2 separate regions of the Homo sapiens genome follow, and region 1 is linked to region 2. Evidence: fine-mapped expression QTL. A gene starts in region 2. The other region holds a variant in brackets. All regions are shown on one strand. Distances are from middle to middle.

What was found. PIP is the estimated chance that this variant, and not a neighbour inherited with it, causes the effect.
Region 1: its variant is fine-mapped to the expression of CNGB3 in testis (GTEx, PIP 0.94).

The regions. Positions count from the first base shown.
Region 1 is chr8:86,690,777-86,698,776 of GRCh38, reverse strand. The region is part of intron 3 of CNGB3 (cyclic nucleotide gated channel subunit beta 3); the gene reads left to right. Among named protein-coding and RNA genes, the nearest start is that of CNGB3, 49 kb to the left of the region's middle. RefSeq lists an enhancer at 4,109-4,754. The variant G/T (reference allele first, on the strand shown) is at 4,875.
Region 2 is chr8:86,740,196-86,748,673 of GRCh38, reverse strand. It overlaps CNGB3 (cyclic nucleotide gated channel subunit beta 3), which reads left to right and starts at 5,040. Exons shown (of 18, transcript NM_019098.5): 1 at 5,040-5,175. The coding sequence starts at 5,047.

The sequences.
Region 1 (8,000 bases), 50 kb after region 2:
TTTTCAAACCTTCACCTCTCTCACGTTGAAAATCCCAACTCTTAACACCCTCTCTAACAAACTACCCCTTCCCACCAACCACCACCACCTACCTCACTCTATCATCTAAATCTGTTTCAAGATACAAAAATCTTGGTAATTTATATCTTAACACAAATTACCTACTACCTCTTCAAAAAGCAAGTTAAGCCTGATTCTAATTGTGGGATGAAAAGCTTTTTCCCTATGAAGAAATTTTAAATATCATCAAGCATGTGGAGAGGTGCTAGCGAGGGAATGGAGCAAGGAATCAAATTCCATAGGCGATTGTTTTCTCTATCTTTGTATAAAAATGTCCTTGCCCCAATTAAAGCCTCCACCAAGTACAAGGTTGAAATGTGCTTTTTATTCCACTCATTAAAGAGAATTAGCTAACCTAGACTATAAAGTCATAATAACATTCATACAAAGGTAGATTCAAATCTGTTATTTGTCCCTGATGAAAATGATACTTATATTTGGTTTTCAAAGACTATCTAAATAACAAATGACATTTAGAAGAATCTTCATTTACTAATAACTTGAATCTGCTGTATACAAATGAACAAATGAATTCATTTTCAAAGAGGGATATGATATAGAATCTGGAAACTATCGGTCACACAGCTTTATCAGATCTTTGGCAGAACACCAGAATCAATGGCTAAATGTGATTTTTGAGCACTTAGAAAATAAAAGGTTCCCAAATGTCCACCAATGATAGACTGGATTAAGAAAACGTGGCACGTATACACCATGGAATACTATACAGCCATAAAAAAGGATGAGTTCACGTCCTTTGTAGAGACATGGATGAAGCTGGAAACCATCATTCTGAGCAAACTATCGCAAGGACAGAAAACCAAACACCACATGTTCTCACTCATAGGTGGGAACTGAACAATGAGAACACTAGGACACAGGGTGGGGAACATCACATACCAGGGCCTGTCATGGGGTGGGGGGAGGAGGGAGGGATAGCATTAGGAGATATACTTAATGTAAATGATGAGTTAACAGGTGCAGCACACCAACATGGCACATGTATACATATGTAACAAACCTGCACGTTGTGCACATGTACCCTAGAACTTAAAGTATAATAAACAATTAAATAAAATAAGAAAAGGGTTCCTAGATAGCAAGTGAGTTTTGCTAAAATTTTTTTAAAGTCCAATTAATATTATTTTAGTAAATAATTTGAAAATGTCTTGTAATATCTTTCATACAGTTGGAAAAGTGTACCAGTGAATTCATAGCAAGCTGAACAATTGTGCCCACTGAATTTTAATAAATGAACCTGATCTCTAATGACATAACTACAGACTCTGTATTAAGAGTGTTAACTTGATCTCTAATGATATAACTACAGAATCTATATTTTGTATTGTGAAGATCAACAATTCTTTGCCAGGACCAAGATAAACTCATAGATTCCAAATCCATAAATAAAATAAGATAGGATAGTTAATATATCTGTGATGGAATAAAGAGTAGTAAATTGAAATAACAGAGTAAAACAAATGCAAGCAGATTTTGGAGGCAGTGCAAGGTAGCCAAATAGAAGCCTCAAGCAATCTTACTTCCTACAAGAACACCAATTGAACAACTATCCACCCAAAATATGTTATCATCCATAAGTAAGGACTTCATCTTGCCAGTTTGTTATTTGCTTTCTGGTTGATTTGTGGTCTTCTCTTCCTTCTTTCTTTCCTTCCTTCCTGTCTCTTTTTAGTGAAGGTGATCTTCTCTGGTGGTATGTTTTAATTCATTTTTTTGCATCTGTTGCATGTTTTTTGATTTGAGCTTATCATGAGGGTTGCAAATAATATACTATAACTCATTATTTTATATTCAATGATAACATTGAAAGTAAATGGACCAAACTCACCAACCAAAAGACATACTGTGGCTGAACGGATTAAAAGATACACACTTCACCTATAAAGACACACAGAGACTGAAAATAAAGAGATGGAAAAAGATATGCCATGCCATTAAAAACCAAAACGAAGCAGGAGTAGCTATGTGTATATAAGGCAAAATAAATTTCAAAACAAAATTCTAAAAAGAGTCAAAGAAGGTCTTTATATAATGATAAAGGTGTCAATTCAGCAAGAGGATATAACAATCATAGGAAAAATGGTGGATAGAAGACAGGACTAACACGCAGCTCCCACTGGATGGATAGAACAGTGTCTGGAGACACACATTATGAACTTTTGCTCCAAGAACCACTGTAGGAACATACTGGAAAAACTGGAAGAATTCACAGACCCTTTGAAAGAAGTGGCTTGTCACTGCAGATGCCAAAAACCAGCCAAAAAACCCTGAAGACAAAAGACGTAAGCTCTTGGGATCTCTATGGCCCCACTCATCACCTGAGAAACCTGAGTACTCATCCTGGCCAACTCAGGGCAAGATTATATCCCCCTTCTACTACTGCAGCTGTACTCTCTTGGAAGCACCACCTCCTGACAGGAGGCCAATCAACTCAAGCCATTACAGCAACTCATAACAGAACACCCTGCTCTAAAGAAGGAGAAAACAATAGATAACTCCACTGCCTGCAACGCCCTGGCTAATCAGAGGTCCTGAGTCCATCCACATGACAACTTGACTGCTAGCATAACCAGCATTCAAGAAAACCAGCACACCAAAAAATAACTACAACCAAGGACTCCCATAGAGTCCCTTTTACTCTCCTGCCACCTCCACCAGAGCAGGTGCTGGAATCCATGGCTGGGAGACCTGAAGATAGATCAAATCACAGGACACTTTTCAGACATTCCTCAGCACCAGCCTGGCACCCAGTAGCCCTACTGGGTGGCTGGATTCAGAAGAACAATAACAATCACTGTGGTCTAGCTCTCAGGAAGCCCCATCTCGAAGAGAAGGGGGAGAGCACCAAATCAAGGGATTACTCCATGGGACAACAGAATCTGAACAGCAGCCCTTGAGTCCAAAATCTTTCCCAAATGAGAAGGAACTAAAAAAGTAATTCTAGTAATACTATTAAATGAGGTTCTATAACACCCCCAAAAGATCACACTAGCTCTCCAGCAATGGATCCAAACCAAGATGAAATCTCTGAACTGACAGATGAAGAATTCAGAAGGTTGATTATTAAGCTACTCAAGGAGCCACCAGAGAAAGGTGAAAACCAACTTAAAGAAATTAAAAACAAAAAGGAGGATATGAATGAAAAATTCCATAGAAAGATAGATATCGTAAAGAAAAGACAATTACAACGTCTGGAAATGAAAGACACACTTAGAGAAATGCAAAATACACTGGAAGGTTTCAACAATAGAATTGAACAAGTAGAAGAATGAACTTCAGAGCTCAAAGACAAGGCCTTCGAATTAACCTGATCTGACAAAGAAAAAAATAATTTTTTAAAAAATGAACAAAGGCTCTCCCTCTCCCTCTCCCTCTCCCCCTCCCCATGGTCTCCCTCTCCCTCTCTTTCCACGGTCTCCCTCTGATGCCGAGCCGAAGCTGGACTGTACTGCTGCCATCTCGGCTCACTGCAACCTCCCTGCCTGATTCTCCTGCCGAGTGCCTGCCGAGTGCCTGCGATTGCAGGCGCCACCGCCACGCCTGACTGGTTTTCGTATTTTTTTGGTGGAGACGGGGTTTCGCTGTGTTGGCCAGGCTGGTCTCCAGCTCCTTACCGCGAGTGATCCGCCAGCCTTGGCCTCCCGAGGTGCCGGGATTGCAGACGGAGTCTCGTTCACTCAGTGCTCAATGATGCCCAGGCTGGAGTGCAGTGGCGTGATCTCGGCTCGCTACAACCACCTCCCAGCCGCCTGCCTTAGCCTCCCAAAGTGCTGAGATTGCAGCCTCTGCCCGGGCGCCACCCCGTCTGGGAAGTGAGGAGAGTCTCTGCCTGGCCGCCCATCGTCTGGGACGTGAGGAGCCCCTCTGCCTGGCTGCTCAGTCTGGAAAGTGAGGAGCGTCTCTGCCCAGCCACCATCCCATCTAGGAAGTGAGGAGCGCCTCTTCCCCGCCGCCATCCCATCTAGGAAGTGAGGAGCGTCTCTGCCCGGCCACCCATCGTCTGAGATGTGGGGAGCGCCTCTACCCCGCCGCCCCATCTGGGATGTGAGGAGTGCCTCTGCCCGGCCGCGACCCTGTCTGGGAGGTGAGGAGCGTCTCTGCCCGGCCGCCCCGTCTGAGAAGTGAGGAGACCCTATGCCTGGCAACCACCCCGTCTGAGAAGTGAGGAGTCCCGCCACCCGGCAGCCGCCCCATCTGAGAAGTGAGGAGACCCTCCGTCCGGCAGCCACCCCGTCTGGGAAGTGAGGAGCGTCTCCGCCCGGCAGCCACCCCGTCCGGGAGGGAGGTGGGGGTCAGCCCCCGCCAGGCCAGCCACCCCGTCCGGGAGGGAAGTGGGGGGGTCAGCCCCCCGCCCGGCCAGCCGCCCCATCCGGGAGGTGAGGGGCGCCTCAGCCCGGCCGCCCCTACTGGGAAGTGAGGAGCCCCTTTGCCCGGCCAGCCGCCCCATCCAGGAGGGAGGTGGGGGGGTCAGCCCCCCGCCCGGCCAGCCGCCCCGTCCGGGAGGGAGGTGGGGGGGGTCAGCCCCCCGCCCGGCCAGCCGCCCCGTCCAGGAGGGAGGTGGGGGGGTCAGCCCCCCGCCCGGCCAGCCGCCCCGTCTGGGAGGGAGGTGGGGGGGTCAGCCCCCCCGCCCGGCCAGCCGCCCCGTCCGGGAGGTGAGGGGCGCCTCTGCCCGGCCACCCCTACTGGGAAGTGAGGAGCCCCTCTGCCCGGCCACCACCCCATCTGGTAGGTGTACCCAATGGCTCATTGAGAACGGGCCATGATGACAATGGCGGTTTTGTGGAATGGAGAGG[G/T]GGGGAAGGGTGGGGAAAAGATTGAGAGGTCGGATGGTTGCCGTGTCTGTGTAGAGAGAAGTAGACATGGGAGACTTTTCATTTTGTTCTGTACTAAGAAAAATTCTTCTGCCTTGGGATCCTGTTGATCTGTGACCTTACCCCCAACCCTGTGCTCTCTGAAACATGTGCTGTGTCCACTCAGGGTTAAATGGATTAAGGGCGGCGCAAGATGTGCTTTGTTAAACAGATGCTTGAAGGCAGCATGCTCGTTAAGAGTCATCACCACTCCCTAATCTTAAGTACCCAGGGACACAAACACTGCGGAAGGCCGCAGGGTCCTCTGCCTAGGAAAACCAGAGACCTTTGTTCACTTGTTTATCTGCTGACCTTCCCTCCACTATTGTCCTATGACCCTGCCAAATCCCCCTCTGCGAGAAACACCCAAGAATAATCAATAAAAATAAATAAATAAATAAATAAATAAATAATAATAATAATAAAAAAAAATGAACAAAGTTTCCAATAAATTTGAGATTACATTAAACAACAAAACATAATTGTTGTTCCTGAGTAAGAAGAGAAATCCAAAAGTTTGGAAAACTTATATGAGGGACTAATCAAGGCAAACTTCCTTAGTCTTGCTAAATATCTAGACATCCAAATATAAGAAGCTAGAAGAACACCCAGGAAATTCATAGCAAAAAGATCAACACTTGGGCACACAGTCATCAGGTTGTCTAAACTCAAGATGAAGAAAAGCATCTTAAGAGCTATGAGGCAAAAGCATTAGGTAATCTTAAAGGAAAACCTATCAGATTAACAGCAGATTTCTCAGTAGGAACCCTGCAAGCCAGAAGGGATTGGGGTCCTGTCTTTAACCTCCTTAAACAAAACAATAATCAGCCAAGAATTTTGCATCCAGTGAAACTATGCTTCATAAATGAAGGAAAGATATAGTCTTTCCCAGACAAACAAATCCTGAGAGAATTCACCACTACCATGCCAGCACTATAAGAACTGCTAAAAGGAGCTCTAAATCTTGAAACAAAACCTCAAAATACACCAAAATGGAACATCCTTAAAGCAAAAACTTCACAGAATCTATAACAATAACACCATGAAAAAAAAAGGTATTTAGGCAACAACTAGCATGATGAATAAAACAGTACCTACCTCACATGTCAATACTAATATTGAATGTAAATGGCCTAAATGCTCCGCTTAAAAGATACAGAATGGCAGAAAGGATAAAAATCCACCAACCAAGTGTCTGCTGTCTTCAAGAGACTCATCTAACACAAAGGACTCACATAAACTTAAGGTAAAGGGGTGAAAAAAGACATTCCATGCAAATGGGCAACAAAGGCAACCAGGAGTAGCTGTTATTCTAACAGACAAAAAAGACTTTAAAGCAACACCAGTTAAGAAAGACAAAGAGGGACATTATATAATAATAAAAGGATTAGTCCAATAGGAAAATATCACAATCCTAAATATATATGTACTTAACACTGGAGCTCCCAAACTTATAAAACAATCATTAATAGACCTAAGAAATGAGACAGATGGCAACACGATATTAGTGGGGGTCTTCAATACTTTACTGACAGCCCTAGACAGGTCATCAAGACTAAAGTCAACAAAGAAACAAGGGACTTAAACTATAAACTACAACAAATGGACTTTATAGATATTTACAGAACATTCTACCCAATAACTGCAGACTATACATTCTTTTCATAAGTACGTGGACCATTCCCCAAGATTGACCACATGACAGAATACGAAACAAGTCTCAATAAATTTAAGAAAATCAAAATTATAGCAAGTGCTGTCTCAGACCACAGTGGAATAAAATTGAAAATCAATTCCAAAAGGAACCCTCGAAGCCATGCAAATACATGAAAATTAAATCACCTGTTCCTGAATGATCATTTGGTCAACAATGAAATCAAGATGAACATTAAAAAATTATTTGAACTGAACAATAATAGTGACATAACCCATCAAAACCTCTTGGATACAGCAAAAGCAGTGCCAAGAAAAAAATTCACAGCATTAAATACCTGCAACAAGAAATCTGAAAGAGCACAAAGAGACAATCTAAAGTTACACCTCAAGGAGCTAGAGAAACAAAAACAAACCAACCCACAACCCAGCAGAAGAAAAGAAATAACCAAAGTCAGAGCAGAACTAAATGAAATTGAAACAAAAAATACAAAAGAGAAATGAAACAAAAACACTGGTTATTTGAAAAGTAAACAAAATAAATACAGCATTAGCAAGATTAACCAAGAAAAGAAGAGATAAGATCCAAAGAAGCTCAACTAGAAACAAAATGGGAGATACTACAACTGATAGCAATCGGCATAGAAGGGCCATAACTTAAGGTAATAAAAGCCATCTATGACAAACCCATAGCCAACATAGTACTGAATGGGGAAAAGTTGAAAGCATTTCCCCTGAGAACTGGAATAAGACAAGAATGCCCACTCTCACCACTTCTATTCAACATAGTACTGGAAGTCTCAAGCAAAGCAATCAGAAGAGAGAAAGAAATCAATGGCATCCAAATTGATAAAGAAGAAGTCAATGTTGCTGTTTACCAATGATATGATTGTATACCTAGAAAACCCTAAACACTCATCCAAAAAGCTCCTAGATCTTATAAATGAATTCAGTAAAGTTTCAGATTACAAAATAAATGTACACAAATCAGCAGCACTGCTATACACCAACACCAACCAAGCTGAGAATGAAATCAAGAACTCAACTCCTTTTACAACAGGTGCAAAAACAAAACAAAACAAAACTTAAAATTATACCAAACCAGAATTGGAAAAAACTACTTTAAAGTTCATATGGAACCAAAAAAGAGCCTGCATTGCCAAGTCAATCCTAAGCCAAAAGAATAAAGCTGAAGGCATCACACTACCTGACTTCAAACTATACTACAAGGCTACAGTAACCAAAACAGCATGGTACTGGTACCAAAACAGAGATATAGATCAATGGAACAGAACACAGCCCTCAGAAATAACACCACACATCTACAACTACCTGATCTTTGACAAACCTGACAAAAACAAGAAATGGGGAAAGGATTCCCTATTTAATAAATGGTGCTGGGAAAACTGGCTAGCC
Region 2 (8,478 bases):
AAAACTTCCTCTAAGTATCAGTTGCTATAATTCCACTTCATAAGATCATTAGTCAATATCATCAAGAAAAATAAATATACTCAGAAATGTTCTTTGAATATTTATTTTTTGAATGCAAAGTTAACGTTTTGCTAATCCTACAATAATTAAAAGAACATAAAATCAATGCCATCAGTTTCTTTTGAGACTGATATGGTCTACATAGTATATATAAAGAAAATTGTATATGTTTCATGTTTATTGTTAATACTCAACAGTAGTTTAACAAGTCTTTGTTATGTATCTACTATATTAAGGGCACTGTGCTGGCCACATAAACTGCTAACTATTGTAATACCTTAATTCACTGGATGTTGTTTCTGATGTCTGGACCTTTCAACATCTGCCTGGAATATCTCTCATCTTTCAAAACCTGTCATGAGCATTAGCTCCTCCGCAGAGCTTTACTCCCCATTTTACAGTCCATTCACACAAAGGCAGACTTGGTCACCTGCTCTTCTCTGCTTAGGTGGCATGGCTCGCACACTGCCATTATGGAAGCTGTCTTGAGATTGTCTATAAACCTTCCATCTTTCCGTCCCAAAAGGTGAGTGTGCACAGGCAGATGCCATATTTTGGTCATCTCTGTATACCCCACAGCAGCTAGCTGAGCACCTGACACACACTAAGAAGCCAAATCTTCACTGCTCAATAGAATTATATGCTTTAATATACAGAGTATTTTAAATTTGAGTGCTTCAGAAAACACAATTTGTTTTATTCAATTGATTGGCAAATATTTGTTGAGAATTTAACTTACAGCAGGGAATTTTTGTCTGTCATCTTATTCCTTGGCTTGTGTAATCTAGCCTGTTATTCCAGCTTCCATTTTGTAGATGAGCACCTAAACCTTGTTCGCAGGTAACCAGACATTGCTAGTAACTTTTTTCTCTAAAGTCTTATAATTTTTTTTAAAAAAGCTCATAATTTACTCACCTGTTTTCCTGCCTTATTAAGTATATTCAGCGTAGTTAATTTTTCAGAACTTGGTCAGTGTTCAGGTTTGTTACCAGGTTATTATCTTCTCCTAAAAATACACAGCCCTGAACCTGAGATGGGGGAAAACTTCTGGGAGTTTCCCTTCAATTACTGTTTTAGGTTATCTACTGTAAACCAGCTATTCCCTTTATACTCGGTGGTTGCTCTTCTCTTATTGAAATAATATTCAGACTACTTGAACTTAATTCAGAAAGATCTTGGAAAATTGCCTAAATGTTTCTTTCTAGTAGACATAGGGGAAAATATAACCTTAGTTGGTTTTATAACCTTAATTTGTTTCCAATAATTTGCCAAAAACAAACAAGTCTTCAACCCTTGACCCCGTCCAGAAGCAGAGGAGACTGTGATTTGAGAATTACCAGAAGAAAGTCCTCCTCGTTCAAAATTGCCCCCAGTGGGAATGTCTGAAATTCCATCATTAAAGATTCCCTCAAAGAAAGATAGCATTTCCCAAACCTGACTCCTATTAAGTGAAAACTTTATTACAGATCCTATTTGAATAATTCATAAGAATAATACTTAAATATGTTCCAACCTGAAACTAGATATAATCTTCATTTGCTTATAATTTTTATAGAACCATAAAGCTAAAACTTGTTTGAAAATTTAACATAAAACTTAAAAATCAATAAGATTAAAACAATGCTGTCTGTAAGATGGCTAATGCTCTGCTGAAAATAAAATTACTAGTCACAACAAGAATATGGAACTGTTTGCTAATGATGATAATCTTTTTGTTTTAGCATAGCTTTATTACCATCTGATTTGTATTTTACGTGTTATATTCCTATGTGCCATCTGTATACCATCTACGGTATCTAAGACACCATTTGTTTTAAAACATACCATTATTTTATGCATGCTTCTCTCAGCCTATCCCAACTTCAGCCTGCAATGGCTACTAATAAAAAACAATGAGGCTACAACATTTGCATTCTTCCAGGGAGATTTTTTCCACTTCTCTTACACACTGCATCTACCACAGAGAATCTCTTCACTGTTAATCTAGAACTAAGAGATGGTCTATACCATCTTCTTCCTGTTATTTATTCAACAAACATTCATGGAGTACCTAGAATATGTCAAGCACTGAGCTGGGCACAGGAATCTGAAGGTGGCCAAAGCATAGTCTCTGCCTGCAGGAGCTTATGCTCTAATAGAGAAAATAGACCTGGACATGGCTGTAAAATGAGAAGTGACAAAGTAGAGATCTCTGTATGGCACAGATACAATTGCAACAAAAAGACAGGATTATAGGTATAGCTGTCCATGGTAGAAGAGAGGAACGGTAGGAGAAGGAAACACCAAGCTTAAGCTAGATAGACAAGAAGTGGAACAGCGTTGCAGGCAGGGGAACAGTACACATGAGCAAAGACATGGGTACAGGCAAGAAAAAGCAGAGAAGTTCAAGCTATTTTAAATTACTGATTATGGCAAGAGCCAAAAGAGAGGTCGGGGTTACAGATTAAACTAGAGTTAGGCAAAGGTCAATGATATAAGGCCGGGAATGTCCTGGTAAGGAGTTTATACATTTATGCTGTAGAGAAGGAGGAGTGGCTGAGGGGCTTCAGTTAGACAAACAGTCCGTTATATTGAAGAAAAATTGTTTTTATTCCCATTGTCATACACTACCTCAGCAATATGGCAACTTGGTACAAAAAAATTAAATTGTTATTGGTGAAATTCTAGTAAGCCATTTCACCCAGAATAAGCAACCCTCCTTCTTCCCTTATCTTCTTGCTGATTAGAAGAGCTCCTCTGTGGAAGACCACAAATCACAGAATTTAAAACCAGAAGAAAACAAACATTGTTTTTTCCCAACCTAGTTATTTCCAGGTTAAGGCAAGAGATTTACTTTAGTCCACAGAGCTACTAAAGTGAAAAAGAATGATCCAAAATTCATGTCCTTCATTCCAGAATTCTTTCTAGTTGTCCATTTTCCAAACTTTGAGACCTCTGATCTAGACAAAATAAAAGTAGTCATTTATAATTTTAATGCCCATGTTAATGCCACTCTATTGTCAAAAATCAGGTTGTTGGAGGTATTTTAAATCATTTTAAAGGTGCTTGAATTATTTAATAATATCTCCATCCCATTTATTCTGACCTGTGACAAATCTAAAGGGTTAAATTGTCAAAACAGACTAGCCAGAATCACAGATCTTACATAGCACCAAACTTTATTAATGATTCGTTGGCTACAAGCCGCCATCAGGAATAAACAAAACATTCATTTTGGGAAAAACCCCAAACTGTCAGACACAGCATCCAAACAAAACAGACCATTTTTCTCCTGCAGTTGGCATATTTTGGTTTTGCATTTACAAGTAATTTTTGAGCATTGTCTGCAAAAACATTTCTCACAAAAAGAAGGCAGTTTGGTTTGGGGACATCTTCGTTCCACATTCTCTTACAGAGCTTACATAGCACCTCTCTCTCCATTCTCCAGCCAGCCTGCTAAATTCCAGGCTTATTTACAATAAGCAATCTAGACAGACCAGAAATGTCCTGCTAAAAAAGTTTCATAAATAGGGACTCCCTGGTATCTTTCCACTGATAAATACTATGAGATTTATACGAAAGTCTGGTGAGGTCATTTTTTCCTCTGCAGGTCTTAGGAAGGGAAAAAATTAGTCACAGGCTGGCTGTTAACACCTTCCCTTCCTTTGGCTTAGCTTCTATGCTTATACCCAAAGTTCAAAATGTAATCAATTACAGGATTACAGGATTATCTGAAAAGTTCCTAAAATGGCCCTATACATATTTGATAATCTATTCAGAATTATTTCTGAAGCAATAATGGAACCAAAACACCCCCCACCATTTTTTAACAAAAATAAATAGCTTTGTGTTTCCAGGCCATATAAGTCAAATCATGTATTCAATTACGTTATTTATTAGGTAAGTTTATTTTTGATAAAATGGTTGAATCTAAAATTAAAACTTCTAATTTATTTTAAAAATCCATAAGGGAACTGCGATTTTGGTAATATGAAATCTAAATTAAAATGCTTTCTTCATAAATACTTAAAGGCTTTTTTCTGTATTAACTGTAATAAACGTATCTTAAAATACATAACTAGTATCTCAAGGAAATTTCCAGATTGCAAAAATACAGAGGGCAAGAAGTATTTGATGGGTTGACTTAGGCTGCCCTGGGTGTGGGTGTGTACCTTGTTGCATAAAGGCTTTGGTTTTAATTTGAAACTGCAGAAGATAAGTGCTCTCATTAAAAACAAAAACAAAAACAGAACCCCTTTAAAAAAAATCATGCGTCTTTGGTGCACTAAAAAATCTCATCCAACAGCATAGAACATCAACTTTGTCTGGGCTCCGGGCAAAGGGGAAAAAAAAGTTCTCTTTAACAAATCTTAGTCTTGTATCTTTGCCTCACACAGGTTTGGGGTCAAAAGTGACACACACACACACAGAGGCAGAGTAGAATAAGCAGATTTTTTTTTGTTTAGCCATGTGGAAATCAACCACCAGAAGAACAGAAAAAGAAAGCTTAAAAATAGTGGCCTAACATTGCAGGACCAGAGAAGGGGATTTTGAGGAGTGAATGAGTTGCTTCATATCATAAGCCCTCATGGATTTTTTTTAATCATTTCCATATTACTTTGCATAAAGTTAGACAGATAAAGATAAGTAGGTGGGTAATTAGAAGGAAAAAAAAAGAAAGAAAACAATGTGTTGTGTGATCACATTTAAACCATTCAAATCAACTATGAAGCTGTGTTTAATCCTCTACTTCTAAATTATTCACAAGATCATTTTGACTCCCTAAAGTTCATAAACAGAGTGCAAATCACCCAAGCAGAAGTATTTTGCTGCTTTTAAGCCAAAGCCCTGACTAGCTAAGGAGTTGCCTGTAGGAATTAACCAGAACAAAATCCTGATTAAACAGCTAATTGGCTTGTCTACTAAAGAAAAGGAAAACAAAGTACATTTCTCTACCTTAAGGCACAGTCATAAATACAGAGGGTTTTCAGAACCACCTCAGAGAAGATGTTTAAATCGCTGACAAAAGTCAACAAGGTGAAGCCTATAGGAGAGAACAATGAGAATGAACAAAGTTCTCGTCGGAATGAAGAAGGCTCTCACCCAAGTAATCAGTCTCAGCAAACCACAGCACAGGTATGTCCTCTACATTCCTATGCAAGCCTTGATTTTCATCATTTCTTATCTGGTAATAGCATTTAATCACTGCTACGATATATGATTGTTTAGTAGTTTTACCTGGCACCATCTGGTACATGTACTGTGTCGGGCTTATCTTCATTAATTTATATATTCTGTATGTATTTGTTCATAAAAAGAATAATAAATGTTTAGGAGACTATACTAGGATTTGGAAAAGCCAAGTAAGACTTCTCATTGCTGATTTTCACTTCTACCATCATCCAAAATGAAACCATTTCTCAAATATTAAATTGGTTACTTGATTGAGTTTCAACAAAGAACATCAAGTATCCTGGTCTTCATAAACCACATGTTAACAATAAATCTCTAGAGCAATAGGAAACCTATTGGCTCTCAATTGAGAGCGATTTTACCACTCAAGGGACATTTGGCAAATCTGGGGACACTTTCAGTTGTCATAGCTCCGGGGTGGGGATGTTACTGGCATCCAGTGGGTAAAGTCTGCAGATGCTGCTCAACATCCTATCATGTACAGGACAGCCCTCCACAACGTAGAATTATACACTACAAAATTTTAATACTGCCAAGGTGGAGGAACTTTAAACAAGCCTTTTCACAAGTTCTAAATATATTTTTCTGCAAAATGTATATGATAATTTCTGCTTTGTTATGAGAACTAGAGACAGTAATATATAAAGCACATGGTAGGTACTTTACAAGTGGCTATTATTATTATTAATAAGAATTTGTGTTTCTGTGACAGGTTTAAGTCCTAAGTGATCATTACAAGAGCAATATTTACTTAGAACTATCCACAGAATAATTTTCGTGAATTACTCACTAGAATTATCTAAAAGAGCTACAGAAGATTTTTAGAGCAGTAGTTATTTTGCCATCTGAAACAGCTGGATGAGAGATGACAAGTACAAGCAGGAGTGCTCCTCAGGGACTAGGGGAGCATAGTCCAATGGTTCGGGTTTAAATGAGCCTAGAGGATAGACAACACTGAGACTATTTAACATGGGCCGTGGAAAATCTGCCTTCCTTTTCTGATTAATGTTGACTGCTTTGCAGTAGAGAGGAGATGAGGAGGACTGTGTTAGTATTGCTTCGAGAGAGTGCCCTTGACTTCTTTCTAATTCTTATGTCAAAATAAATAATCCCACACTAAGTTATCTATATGTTTAAGAACTCATACAATGTCACAAATATTGAGCTGGTACTTTCCTTCAGCTAGTCTTGCTGTGTTTTGCTCTGGGAAAGTCACTACATCCATCTTTAACCCTTGCCTACTGTGATTATTTTCCAAGGGAGCACATAAAAACCGTTAATAGCTAATATATTATTCTCTTGGAGAACATTGTAACTAACAGCAATTACTATTTGCCAAGCAAGGTGCTAAGCCCTTTTCTAGGGCTACTGTATTTAATCCTCACAACAGTCACAGGTCCTATTACAATTTGCTCCTTACACATAGCTAGCAAATGGCAGAGCCTGGATTGGAACCAAGTCCTATCTGAATTCAGCACCTGAGAGCTAAATCACTAGGCTATACTGCTCAAAACAGGAGGGATATTAGTTGAGTCAACCCTTTAAGATACTTTGCCTGCAGGATAAACGGAAATTAGAGAGAAGGCGAAAAAAGAAGAGAAACTTCTTAAAGAGTTATCTTTCCTTTCAAAACAGGAATATTGGAGAAGTACTTAGATTAGGCACAGGTAGAGCACCCCTTAGGTATATCCCATGCCATTCCAACAGCCATAATTTGTGGATATTAATCGCGAAGTCTACTGGCATCACATTAGATTTTTTTTTTTTGTTTTTTTTGAGACAGAGTCTCATTCTGTCGCCCAGGCTGGAGTGCAGTGGTGCAATCTTGACTCGCTGCAACCTCTGTGTCCTGGGTTCAAACGATTCTCCTGCCTCAGCCTCCCGAGTAGCTGGGATTACAGGCACATGCCACCACACCCAGCTCATTTTTTTGTATTTTTAGTAGAGACGGGGTTTCACCATGTTGGCCAGGCTGGTCTCAAACTCTCGGCCTCAGGTGTTCCGCCCACCTTGTCCTTGCAAAGTGTTGGGATTACACGCATGAGCCACTGTGCTCAGCCACATTATATCTTAAAAGTCATATTTGGGCAATTATTTGCATCTGTTCTTTCCAAGAACATGTGGGTATGGGAAAAAATAGTTTATCTCCAATTTCAAATATGCTAAATGTTAAAAATGACAGAAAGTTAAAATCCTGTTTTCTTTCACGGAATTCGACCTTTCAAAATGGCATTTAAACAATAAGCCTCTGAACTATGAATAAATGATTAGAGTCTTATAAGCAAATATCTAGGAATAAATATATCAATGTATGTTGTGTTTTTTAAAGAGTCATTTAAAGAGCTCATTTACACACCAAAATGTCATGGGTAATTCTCACCTATCAATAAACAATAATTTAAGAACTGCAAATCAGTCTAATCCAAACTCTCTCTTACCCCAGAAGAAGACACTCTTCACATAAATCTACATTTGTATACACATAAAGACTATGATATAAATATTTATGAATAACATCATAACGATGCAAAAGGACTTGATTGAAGTCAGAAGGCTTTTTCACTGTTTATAAATAGTCCTGGACTTATACCTTTCTAGCTACGTTCATATAAACTAGCCACTCAATCAATTTCATATTCAATAATATAATAATATTAATAATAATAGCTGCCTTGCCTAATGTATATGGTTATTGTGAGGCTTAAGTGAAAATCAGCCAATTAATTTATTTTTTAGTTTAAAATGCTTCTATGAAACACAAGGCTTATAAATAATGTCAAAACTCTATAGCAGGCACACAAGACTCTCAGTGTCCTTCTGGTCCCTGCCTACTCTCAAGCCTCATCTACTCACCCTTTGTCCCATCCAACCACTCCTACTGTAGTCTCTCCCCACCTATGTACAGTCACGCCTTTGGCTTTTGCTAAACCTGCATCATCTGCCTGGAATATTTTCTAAGTCCTCTCCATGTGGAAAACAAAAATCTTATCTTTATAAAGTCAAGAGTCACTTTCTTTGGAATAGTTTCCTTTCTTTCCCTTCTACTCCAGTAGAATTGACCACTTCCTGTTTATGCCCCATCCTAATCCTCTACAGACATTGATTCGTCACCTACATTTTCTTGCACTTAACATTTTTGTGTGTTTGTTTCCCCTTCTAGACTGTGCATAGCTTGGGAGTCAATCTTTATGTTCTAACCTCATATCTTGTTTCACTCTGCCCCTGTAGGAACATCCTGAGGCACAC